Homo sapiens: one gene and its partners. The protein of the gene in region 2 purifies or fractionates together with the protein of the main gene of each other region. This does not show direct contact. Each region holds a gene or a part of one and is shown on either strand. Other genes may lie near its edges.

Region 1 (3,289 bases), on a different chromosome or scaffold from region 2:
CATCTATTCAAATAAAATGGATTTTCTCTTTTAACATTCTTTGGGGGCTCAGTTAACTATGTTTAAACCCTATTTGAGGAATCAGTATTCGTTATGGACTGAATGTTTGTGCCCCATCCCCTACATTGAAGCCGTAACAGCCAATGTGATGGGGTTAGGGGGTGGGGCCTTTGTTGGGGGTGACTGGGTTTAGATAAAGTCATGAGGAAGGAACTCTCATGATGGGATTCCTGCTCTCGTAAAAAGAGACACTCTAGGGCTTGCTCCCTGCCACTGCTGCCTGCAGAAGTTTCTAAACCCTTTATGTTCCACATCTGCCTCCTGTCTCTTCCCATGGCTCTCTACAGAGCTATTTGTAACATGTCTACCTGACACTTTTGGGGATGTGGTCAGTAAAAGAGGAAGAGGGGCCTCACCACGAACCAAATTTACCAGCATGTGGATTGTGGGACTTCCCAGCTTCCAGAACTGTAAGAAATGTCTGCTTTTGAAGCCACCCAGTCTGATATTTTGTTATAGAAGCCTGAAGTATGATGGTATTTTAATGTAAATTTTAATGTAAATTTTAATCCACCTGTGTATGATAGAAAATGAATAAATGGTAAACACACACTGGCCTAGTGGGGAGGCAGAATCTCCACAGACCTATAATTCATACATAAAAGCTAAAGGTAAAATGGTAAAGTAGAAAATTGAGTCACTGCCTGCTACTTAAGGCATTTACAAGTACAATGATCATATCAGTAATTTTTCTTTGAAGAGCTATTTCCTCAATTTTGGTATCTCCCACAATGCAATTTTTCATCCGAAGAGCTACAGATATCCACCTCTCACCTTATTAGCTTTAGAAAGGCAAGACCTTGGCATAAGTAGCTCAGGTGATAACTCAAGGCAATTTTTAGTTGTTTATCTAGGTAACATGCAACATTTATACTAGAGGGGGACAAAGTCTACATCAGGTGGCAAAACGTCAAGACATTTCTCTTCTCTGCAGCATCGTAAAACTAAACCTTTAGGATCATGCCTACTATCCATTTGCATAAGATGTTGAAGATTTTATCCTTCACAACATAACAATGCCTAAAAAAAAAACAAAAAACCCGAAAGAGGCCTAAATCCCCTGGATCAATTACCAGGAGAGACCTTATTATATGTGGCTCAGTCCATAAATCTAAAGTGTACATTTGTCCAATTACAATTTACATAGTTATCCACCATTTCAAGCATGTCAGTGATATTCTCTGCTCTGATCTGGAAAAAAAGAACAACTAGACGGATGACCACACTAAAAAAAAAAAAGTTAAGTCCTTTCTTTTGAATTATGCTAGAGAATTTTTAAAAAGTCCTTTCTTTTAAATTATGCTAGATAATTCTTTGAGTATTAATTTTTTTTGAGACTGAATCTCACTCTGTCGTCCAGGCTGGAGTGCAATGGCATGATCTCAGCTCACTGCAACCTCCACCTCCCGGGTTCAAGCTATTCTCCTGCCTCAGCCTCCTAAGTAGCTGGGACTACAGGAACCCAACATCATGCCCAGCTTTTTGTATTTTTGTAGAGACAGGGTTTCACCATGTTGACCATGCTGGTCTTGAACTCTGACCTCAGGTGATCCTCCTGCCTTGGCCTCCCAAAGTGCTGGGATTACAGGCATGAGCCACTGCGCCCGGGCTGAGTTTTAATTTTGTGACTGCTCTTTGGTAGATTTTAAATATTAGAGGTAGGCCCTAAATAGAAAGAACACCATGGTGCTTTTGCTCTCATGCATTTCGGTTTTAACGTTAAAGTATGAAAGAAATATGAGTTCATTTTCATGGATAATAATATAACTTTATTGTGTGCAGCCTTTCCACACCAATTTAGTTTTTCTATGAAATAAGATTTCAAGTGGTAAAGTTACTGTTAAGGAGACACACTGGAAAAAGCTGAAGAGTTTTTTTGTCTGAAACTGAAAAACAGAAAAGTCTAGGGGGAAAGATGTGAGAAAACTACTATAGGCTACAAAGACCACAAAAACAGTTTTGGGGATTAGAAGGGGGTGACATTGAGTGAGTGTGTGGGAAGAGAAGGGCTGGGCAAATTATCTCAGAAGAGGGGGTAGTAGGATTTCAGGTGGATGTTTAAGGTATTTGCTTGGCAGATATAATCTAGGAATCTCCTAGCTCTTGCATTTCCTGCTATCTGTAACTTTATTATGTAGTATAATAATTTTTTATTTAGCACAAAGTTCATTTGGACTAGAGAATCGGAAGGTGCTAATTTTGTCCCCGGCTAGCAAAGTCATACCTGAGGTATGCGCTGGAAAACAACTGGAAGACCTAGGCAGGGGAATTCAAAGTTGTTTTTTTTTTAAATTTTATTATCCTGTCTTGGTTTCCTTATTGAATAGATTTCCACAGGAAAAATACTGTGAGTTTACTGATCTGCTGCAGAATTGGAATTTAGACTCACAATAAAGAGAGTTAAAGATAGATCCAAAGGTTCACTTAAAATAAAAATCACCAGACAGAACAGGCTACTGAAGAGTCTCTTCCCCGTGGTTAAGTTTCATCATACACATAAGGCTTTGGAGCAGCTGTCCTCAAATGCTTCTATCCAAAACCCACTCCTCTTCTGGAGTTTCTGAACCCTTTATGTTCCACATCCACCTCCTCTCTCTTCCCATGGCTCTCTACAGAGCCATTTGTGACATGTCTACCTGACACTTTTGGGGACGTGGTAAGTAAAAGAGGCAAAGTCCCTAACACTTATTAGAAACGTGAGAAGAGAAAAATGTGCTTGGACTTGCTTTAGTATTCTAATTGGCACACATGCCAAAAGACTAACGATCTTGTATGCTGAGGTGGAAATGAGCCTCTAATAAAAGCTACGAAATCCTCTAATACAAGATACAAAAACTTATACATTACACCAGTCTAGCTGAAACATAATTTTTTGATACTCTTTGACTGAACTTTAGACAGAAAAGACAAAACTGAAATGGAGGAACGTAATTTAAGTGTGGCAGAAAGTTGGGAATCATGCGGCCTGATATACAAAGATAAATGCATCACTGAGGCATATTCCCCTGGCCTTGAGGTATGCAGGCAAAGGAGAGGTCACACCTTCCTGGGAGACAAAGGATCAAAGTTGACACAGAGCTCCAAGAAAATATTTACCAGAAGAATGTGATGATTCATTTATCAGTCCAGAAATCCCAAGTACAAAACTTCAAGATACAAGAAGGATCAAATTATATCATATATATGATTCAATTTAAAAATTCTTAGCCCTCTTATATCATATTATCTA
Region 2 (2,051 bases):
TGGGTCTTACTAGCTGGCTGTATAAACCTATTCTTATGTTTAGTAAACAAGTCTGAGTCTTTCTAATGCTTCTTAATTTTTTATACCATTTGAATTTATCATTATTTACTAATAACTTTTATTTAGATCTAGATATGCTAGAAATTAAGAGGTTCAAGATTCATCAAAATCTTAAATAAAAAGAGGCATATACTGTGAAAAGTAGACTAATCTTCAAAACTCAGCTGTGATTGTTACACGAATATAAGACCAGAATTTTAAGATTATTGGGAAGCATCAAGAAAAGAAATATGCAATGGAATTGAGAGTCAGCATTTAAACAAATAGACAAATAAATAAACAGAAGCCATGTGTGCCATTTCAAATTGAGACAATTTATTGCAAAGGGAACTAAGCAATTACACAGTTAGGAAAGTATAGGTAGTGGATGCCAGTAGACACGATATAGGCAATTATAACATAATGAATATTCCTAACATCTTAGATGCTATTTTTTTTCATCTTGGATTGATCTAGTGTGCCCTTGTTTGACTCAATATTTGGTTAAATTGAATGATCTTCTTATGACCTCTGATATCGTGTCCTCAGGGTAGGATTTCAGTAGAATTGAGAATCCATATCCTCCATAGCATGATGGGCGGCAGTAGCCATATCCGTTGCCTCCAAAGCCACAGCCATAACCCAGTCTGCGGAAGCTGCCACATCCACAGCCATAGCCATAGCCTAGGCCACCAAAGCCTCCACAGCCATAGCCCAGGCCTCTGTAATAGCTGCCATAGTAGCTCATGGCGTCAGGAGTGGTGAGTTGTTTGGCTGCTCAAGGCAAGATCCTAAGTGTGAATGGCAGCACGTGTAGAGGGAGGCTTATATACCCTGATAAGAGTATGTGATGAGTCACATGCGTACCTGTTTTTTTTGTTTTTTTGTTTGTTTGTTGTGTGTGTGTCTGTGTGTGTGTTTTAAATTAGTTACTTAACACAAGTCATTCATTTTTCCCTGGCACAAGGAGAGGCCCTCACAATCGTTAAATTGTTTGAGTTTGCTTTGTTGCTGAATTGGAGTGGCCCTTAAAAGTTATCACACCACTTAATGAGAAGAAATTGCTGTATCTAAAGTCTTGGCATACCAGATCCTAAATAGATTTCTTCATAGCTAGACATATTGCATATTACAAATGAAATAAAATGAAGGTTATATGTTCCTCTAAAGTCAGATGCTATTGGAGCTCATTTCTTTGTCTTCTTTATTTTGCCCAGACTGGTCTCAAGCTACTGGGCTCAAGTGACCCTCCTCCCTCGACCCCCAAAGTGCTGAGATTAGAGGCATAAGCCACCTCACCCAGCCTTCATTTCATCTTTAAATCCCTATTGTTCAGATGTAGCCAGAGAATTACTCATGCCTTTGAGAGGCATAGACTTTAGAATTTATTCATCCTTTCAGCATTTATGTATTGTGTTGTTACTACAAGGTAATTATTGCAAAGAGGCATGCAAATTCAGTTGTGAAAGCACAACATTTGGAAATTACTTATAAGACTAAAAATAACTGATCACTGTATTTGAGATCATATAAGGTTAAAAAGAACTTAAAAGCTCAAAGTTGAAATTAAGGGCACAGCTGAATTAACAATATTTGGGGTCACCTGTGGCTGTATGTGACTAAATTCTTGGAGTCAACTGAGGACTTGCACCCTCAGTTATTTCTTCTGCCTGTTATCTTGTAATATTATACCTACATTTTGGAGATTCTGAAAACATTTCTAATGTTAATGGTATCTTATTGAATTTCAAAGAGCCCTTATATTTAAATTATCTTTTTATATATCCTATACCTTAATAAACATTTAACAACTTAGTGGACTAGCATGGTATTTCCTGAGAAGAAAAAGGTGTATGTGTGTGTGTGTGTGTGTGTGTGTGTGTGTGTGTGTGTGTGTGTGTGATGAATTTGATGAATTTTTGCATATGTGCTTACACTACCTACACCAAGCACACTCTAATCTCCAAAATGTTTCCATTGTTCCATTATGGCAAATATCATTCCCTAGAGAT
Region 3 (3,500 bases), on a different chromosome or scaffold from region 2:
GCATACCATAGAATGTCAGTTAATAAATTTGCGAGAATGAAAGAGTTATACAAATCATTTTGCACACATCACCATAATTGATTCAGGCAAGAGTCATCACTAGCTAAAACTAGTGAGTGAATGTTTTATGAGGAATAGGGTATTTACATAATCTAAAAGTATCTCCTCATACATTATTTATTAATCACAAAGTAAGAAATAACTTTACAGTGAAGAAACATCCCATTACCCAAGTGATCAAGTTTAGTATTGCTAGTAATGGGACTTAGTGAAACGCTGTACTCCTGGTGTGATGCACTGAGCAGGATAAAATATCAGGCATACCCCAATTGAGAGACATTCTGTGAAACAGCTGACTTCTACTTTACAAAAGTGTTAGTGTCATAAAAGACAAAGGCTGAGAAACTATCTGTTCCAGATTAATAGATTAAAGAGTCATGCAAACAAAATGTGTAGTATGATCTTAGATTAGATCCTAGACCAGAAAAAAGTTGCTAAAAAGGATGTTATTGGGAGAATTGGCAACATTCGAGGTCTGTTATCTAATATACAAATTAGATAATTGTGTATTTTCAGTATTAAATTTCCTGATTTTTAAAATTGTTCTGTGATATGTAAGTAAATATCTTTGCTCTTAGGAAGTCATATCCTGAAGTGTTTAGGAGTAAAATGGTGTGCCTGTGACTTTTAAAAAGTTTAGGGAAAAGAGAAGAGAGTGATAAAGCAAATAGAACAAAATGTTAACAATTGGTAAATCTGAGTGAAGGATATAAAGGAAGGAGTTCTTTGTGCTGTTCTTACAAATGCTAAGCTTTTAATTAATTCAGAATTTTAAAATTATATATTAAATATTATATAGATATTTAAATAAAATATTAAAAGATATATTAAAATAGTTTATCAGTGAAATGATACTCAAACATGTTCAAGCTAGCCTTAAAGAGTTTCAAAAGAGACCTATCAGCTCTCCTCACCCTAGTTAGTGTCATAATGATCAGTCATGTGAGGTCAGTCAAGATCAGCTTCCTGAAGAGTATACTTTGAGTAATAGTCTTGTTTCTTGTTTTTATTTTAAAGACTTGCTGGTCTTAGGTATTCTCTTTCAGATTCTGGGCTTCTAAGGTCATATCATTAGTTTTCCATGTCTCTTATTAATTTATAGGACCTATGCATGTTCACACTGGCAAATCTTTAATTCAGTAAGTCATCCGTTCAGCAAATTTTCAAGTACCTGTCATGTGGGAGGAAGGTATACAGAATTGTAAATGGCATGCTCCAAACTTATATTCTTGATTACTTTCTTCCTCTCCTGTATTTCACATCCTGGCAGTCATCTCTCACTCTTAATTACTTTGAACCAACAACTTTTATTAATTCTCTTTTTTTAAAATAACTTTTACTTAGACATACCGAAGCTCTGAACACCTGCAGTATTGCAGAGGCCTCTAATGGGTTTCTCTGCCTCCAATTGCGTTGGCTACCAGTCTATCTGGAGTACAGAAACCATGACAGAGAAAGTATACGTTGTTACTTTCCTAATCCTCGGAACCATAAAAAAAGGAATAACATTAAAAGAACAGAAAAGGAAACTTCATTTATACTGAAATTAGGGAATGTTCACAGTCCTGTATCAAGGAATTTTTCAAATAATATCTGCAAGATAAAGTGAAATTTGGACCAAATTATAAAGGATGTTAATTTGACATGTCTCCTCTTATCAAAGCATGGGACAGGGTACTAGAATTAGTAAGGAAGTTCAGACCTACCGGTAGTAGACCACAGGAGAAATTTCTGGTGTTTAACTTGGAGCTTATCCCTTTATCTTGCAATAGTAGGAAAGGCAGGGTGGTTATAGTTGTTAAAAGCACATATTTCATGTCAGATCTGGCCTTGGATCTTTGCTTTGATACTTACTTGCATGTGGTCCTGGGAAAATGACCTAACTTCTTTAAAGTTCAGTTTTATCTGTGATATTTGGATAGTAGTAGTGTTTACCTCACCGAGTTGCTAGTATCATCGTTAGCTTGGTAGTTAGCACATAGGAAATGTTCAGTAAATATTAGCTACTATTACTCCTTTGGAGGCTAACATAAGAATGAAGACCAGTGTTTTTTGTATTCTTTGGTGCATGTACTCATAAACCTATGATTTCTAAGATTCTTTTTTACTTCTCCTTTCTTATCTACAGAAGCCCAAAAGTCAGGTGCCTCTTTATTAATTTTAAAGCACAATTTTTGTAGTCTTCTAAGTCGATGCTTTTGAGTTCATGAGTTCATGTTATGTTAGGAGTTGTGAAATTAGATACTTACATTAAACACGGTTTAGTCTTGATGCTTTTTTTTCGCTCATGGCATTAAAGTCATAACTGGCAAACTATCTTTCCTTGAAATTAAACTTGAAAAATTTTTAAATTATGCAATTATATGTGCATAATGATAAAAATGCTAAATCTTAAAACATGATTGTGGAAATATATGACATTGTAATGAAATTCAAACAGTACAAAGCAGCATGAAAAGGTAAAGTCTCACTTATACTCCTTATCCCACTGTCCAGTTTTTATTTGTTTTGGCACTTATTTCTATATCTCAGAATAATGAGCACTAAAATATATTTTTAACTTGTGACCTGTCGCTTATTAACAGTTACTTTATCTCTATAAAATTATGAAATTTATTGTTTATTTCTTGCACTGCACTATACTCTGCTAGTCATATATACTTAATTTTAGTTCTTCCGTTGGTAAACTTTGCATCATATACTTTACATAATATACTTGAACCTCTAATCTTGATCTACCATTTATACTTGTCAAGGTTTGTAGCATTTACATTTATGTTTGCTAACGATAATGTAGTCTGAGTTTTGCCTGTAGCAGAGTTTGTAAACTGAGGCCTCTTATGGCAAGTCCAGCCCATAGAGGTATTTTATTTGGCTCACATGGTATATATATATATATTTTTAAGTTTTTCATAGAGATAGGGTCTTGCTCTGTCTGCTAGGCTGGAGTGCAGTGACAAGATCGTAGCTCACTGTAACCTTTATCTTCTGGGCTTTCGAGATCTTCCCACTTCAGCCTACCAAGTAGCTACGACTACAGGCATGCACCACCATGCCCAGCTAATTTTTAAGTTTCTTTTTTGTAGAGGTGGGGGTCTCACTATGTTGCCCCAGCTGGCCTTAAATTCCTGGCCTCAAGTAGTCCTCCCACCTCCACCCCTCAAAGGGCTGGAATTAAAGGCGTGAGCCACCACACCTGACTGTATGTTATTTTTTAATTAGTTTATAATGTTTAATAATTGGGAGATTTCACATAAATCCAGATTTTAGCTTCTCTTAAATCAGATGACTCCGTAACAATTGGCATATACTCCCATAGGCAGCCAGTTTACTAGACAAGAGTATCAACCTTCTCCTTAGATTGAACACACATCTTCAAATCACTGTAGTCTTTACCTGCCCCATTTTACTCACTTACATTTCCTGTCTAGCCCTTGTTG
Region 4 (3,500 bases), on a different chromosome or scaffold from region 2:
TATGTGTTAAATGTGGTTGAACAACAAAAGGTAGGGTTGAAACAAGGTGTCCTAATGGTGCTTTGGCTGTGTCATACTCCCTTCTGGGGTGGGAGAAGGGAGGATGTTATCAATGACAATGGGGCAGCAAGCTCCACGATCCAGCCAAAAAACAAGGCGACGTGGCGATGGCTGCTGAATCTAGGGGTCCCCAGAGCTGAAATAAATGGTGTTAACAATGAGGGTAGAGAACTGTGGGTAGACTAAAAGCGTCAGAAACTTGTCTGTTGAGCCCAGTGGCAGAGGTCACTTGAAATAAAGTAAATACAAAGCCTTGCTTACTGGCACTGAGTGGCTCTCTCCCTCCAGTCCCCAATCCTCCCCTGCCTCTCCTCCAACTCCCTCTGCTTTAGGGAAGTATGCTGGGGAACTTCAGGGCAGGGAAGGACTCAAAATTTTATGGCTCTGTTGGACTGGACACGAGTGCCAAAGTCTACTTGGTCTCAGGGAAGGCAAGTATGCTAAGCACTGGGGTGGCCCAGAGCTCCAAAGACTGCAAGGCCATGCAGTGGCTCCAGCAAAGGCTGAAATAATGATGGCTCTGAGTGGCCATTCTCTCCAGAGGCCAGAGAACACAGGACAGGAAGCAGCACCCATTCTGGGACGAGGAGCCAAAGGACAAAAAGCCCTCCCTGCCCCTCTCCCCTAGCTGGAGACAGCATAATCTCTTGAAACTATTACGACCACCCTTGAAGTACCTATGTTAAACTCTTTTGTCTCTGTTCTTTTATTGTTATTGTTTTGGTTTTTTGAGATAGGGTCTCGCTCTGTCAACCAGGCTGGAGTACAGTGGTATGATCACAGCTCACTGCAGCCTTGACCTTCCTGGGCTCAAGCAATCCTCCCACCTCAGCGTCCTGTGTAGCTGGGACTATAGTTGTGTAACACCATGCCTGGCTAATTTTTTAAATTTTTTAAATGGAGATGAAGTCTCACTATGTTGCCCAGGGTGGTCTTGAATTCTTGGGCTCAAGCAATCATCCTGCCATGGTCTCCCAGTGTGCTGGGATTACAGGTGTGAGTCATCATGCTTGATCACATGTATATTGTGACTAGGTGGGGGAAAGTAACTGAATTCAACTGATAGAGTGTAAGCAAACTTCACAATGAGTAAAAAAAAATTAAAGGGACCTTTATAGCCAATTCAAGATACTGTGATGTGTGTCAACACTCTCCCTACCCACTACATACAAATGTACAATGACATTGATGTATTACATGCTTGTATTATAAAACTCACAGTGACCAAAACAGACTCCCCAGTCAGGGATTCCCAGACCCCTTCTAGGTGGTCTAATAGAAACATAGAAGCCCAGGGAGGAAAAGAAAATCACTATGAAGCTCCAGTGAGGCCACTGCCCAGTGCAGCAGCACCACCTGCTTGGCACAGGCACCAAATACATCCTGTATTAGTTTGCTGGGGCTGCCATAACAAAGGACCACAAACTGGACGGCTTAAGCAACAGAAATTTATTGTCTCTGTTCTGAAGGGGAGAAATCTAAAATCAAGGTGTCTGCAAGGTTTGTTCCTTACTAAGGCTGTGAGAGAAGCATCTGTTCCAGGCCCCTTCCTTGGCTTGTAAACAGCTGTCTTCATATTCACATTGTATGGTCCCGGTATGCATAGTCCAGTATGAATTGTATGGTCTTGTATCCAAATTTCTTCTTCTCATAAAGCCATCAGTCACACTGAATTGGGGCCCATTCTAACGACCTCATTTTAACTTGATTACCTCTGTAAAGACCCTATCTCCAAACAAGATCACATTCTGAAGTACTATAGGTTAAGGCTTCAACATATGAATTTGGAGACAGGAGACACATTTCAACCCATAACACACCCCTTTCAAAAAGGGGACGCAATCGTTGGTCTGCTGCTGAGCTCTTGTTAAAAATGAACCCATGGAGGCTTGTAACTCCCAGGTCTGACATCTCCATTTTGGGGTGGGTCAACCAGGACACAACAACTACGAGGAGAGTAGCTCCCACCCTCTCCCCCTGCCACAACCCACCCCTTGCTCATGGCCCACTGTAAAAGCAGTAGGCTCCCTAAGCTCAACGCTGCTCAACTGTGACACAAATCCACTGAGTGCATAGCACTCATTTCGCCCGTGCCCATCTTTGTCACCTCGGTGAGTTTTGGAGGACATGGGGAATTAACACCACCACGCTCATGCTGTTTGCTGTGCTGTGAGTAATAAAGTCCTCTGACTCTGATGTAGTTGTCTCCAGTCTTCTGTAATAGGCTAACACGTTAGCTTGCAAGTAGGGTAAAATCCCAGACCCTTCACAGACCCTGACTTCATGGGGACCAACATAAGAGTAAAAACCCTGTAGTTTCCAAAGGTCTTTGACAAGGACGTGCTAAGCATCGGATAGCTGGCTGATTTGTAAACCTAATACTTGGTCTCGCCTAGGTCACTGCTCTGTTACAATAATTCAGTTGTCCATTCTTTCAATTGTTTCATTGTCCCCAAAGAGATATTTATTCTGCATAAGACACTCTTGTCAGTCATTAAAAACAATAATAGTAACAACAGCAACAAATATTTATGAGGTGAGAAGCATTTTTCTAAAAACTTGAGGCATTGTTCTATATATTTCATCTTTAATCTTTAAAACATCCCTTTGAAGGGGATATTATTACCTCCAGTGTACAGATCAGGAGACTGAGGCACAAGTCACACAGTTAGTCAAGGGTGGGACTGGGATTCAAACTCAGGCAGTCTGGCTTTAGTCTTCATTTTTAACCACTAGCTACATGCCTTACCAGAGGACTTTCTACTCCCAGAGCCATAATGGGCCACAGAGGCCTAGACATCTTTGTCTGAAATCTTAGGAAAATAATTCGGGTCAAACTTTTAAGACTTGATTTTTTGACTTGCAACATTTTAAAATGTTTTTTACAACCTGTATTAGGCAATTAGATAATCTTCTGCAGTGCTTTGATCTTTTCTATCCAGCCACGTCTAAATCCAATGTTAAGGTTTCACACTCCATGTTAGTTTCCTATTGCTGCAGTAACAAATTATACGAAGTCTGTGGCTTAAAACAACACCAATCTATTATCTTACAGTTCTAAGTTCAGAAGTCCAAAATGGGCTGGCAGGACTGCATCCCTGTAGAGGCTCTAAAGAATAATCTGTTTCCGTGCCTTTTCCAGCCTCTAGGGGCTTCCTGAATTCCTTGACTCATGATCCTTAAACAATCTTCAAAGCCAGCAGTGTAGCATCTTCAAATCTCTCTTATACTGACTCTCATGCTTCCTTCTTTCTCTTATAAAGACCCTTGTGGGCCAGGCACACATACCTGTAATTCCAGCAATTTGGGAGGCTGAGGCCAGTAGATCATTTGAGGCCAGGAGTTCGAGACCAGCCTGGCCAACATGGTGAAACCTTGTCTCTATTAAAAATACAAAAATTAGCCGGGAGTGGTGGTGCATGCCTGCAATCCCAGCTACT

What was found. The genes of interacting proteins can lie anywhere in the genome.
Region 1: the proteins of KRTAP19-4 (region 2) and NLN purify together in Homo sapiens (affinity purification with mass spectrometry; one large-scale study listed by BioGRID and IntAct). This does not show direct contact.
Region 3: the proteins of KRTAP19-4 (region 2) and EXOG purify together in Homo sapiens (affinity purification with mass spectrometry; one large-scale study listed by BioGRID and IntAct). This does not show direct contact.
Region 4: the proteins of KRTAP19-4 (region 2) and PLGRKT purify together in Homo sapiens (affinity purification with mass spectrometry; one large-scale study listed by BioGRID and IntAct). This does not show direct contact.

Annotation. Positions count from the first base shown.
Region 1 is NC_000005.10:65,823,205-65,826,493, reverse strand, and holds part of NLN (neurolysin, mitochondrial), read right to left. Parts: 3' UTR 1-3,289. UniProt on the Homo sapiens protein: Hydrolyzes oligopeptides such as neurotensin, bradykinin and dynorphin A. Acts as a regulator of cannabinoid signaling pathway by mediating degradation of hemopressin, an antagonist peptide of the cannabinoid receptor CNR1.
Region 2 is NC_000021.9:30,496,324-30,498,374, forward strand, and holds KRTAP19-4 (keratin-associated protein 19-4), read right to left. Parts: upstream 843-2,051; 5' UTR 788-842; coding exon 533-787; 3' UTR 501-532; downstream 1-500. UniProt on the Homo sapiens protein: In the hair cortex, hair keratin intermediate filaments are embedded in an interfilamentous matrix, consisting of hair keratin-associated proteins (KRTAP), which are essential for the formation of a rigid and resistant hair shaft through their extensive disulfide bond cross-linking with abundant cysteine residues of hair keratins.
Region 3 is NC_000003.12:38,509,840-38,513,339, forward strand, and holds part of EXOG (nuclease EXOG, mitochondrial isoform 1 precursor), read left to right. Parts: intron 1-3,500. UniProt on the Homo sapiens protein: Endo/exonuclease with nicking activity towards supercoiled DNA, a preference for single-stranded DNA and 5'-3' exonuclease activity.
Region 4 is NC_000009.12:5,427,926-5,431,425, forward strand, and holds part of PLGRKT (plasminogen receptor (KT)), read right to left. Parts: intron 1-3,500. UniProt on the Homo sapiens protein: Receptor for plasminogen. Regulates urokinase plasminogen activator-dependent and stimulates tissue-type plasminogen activator-dependent cell surface plasminogen activation.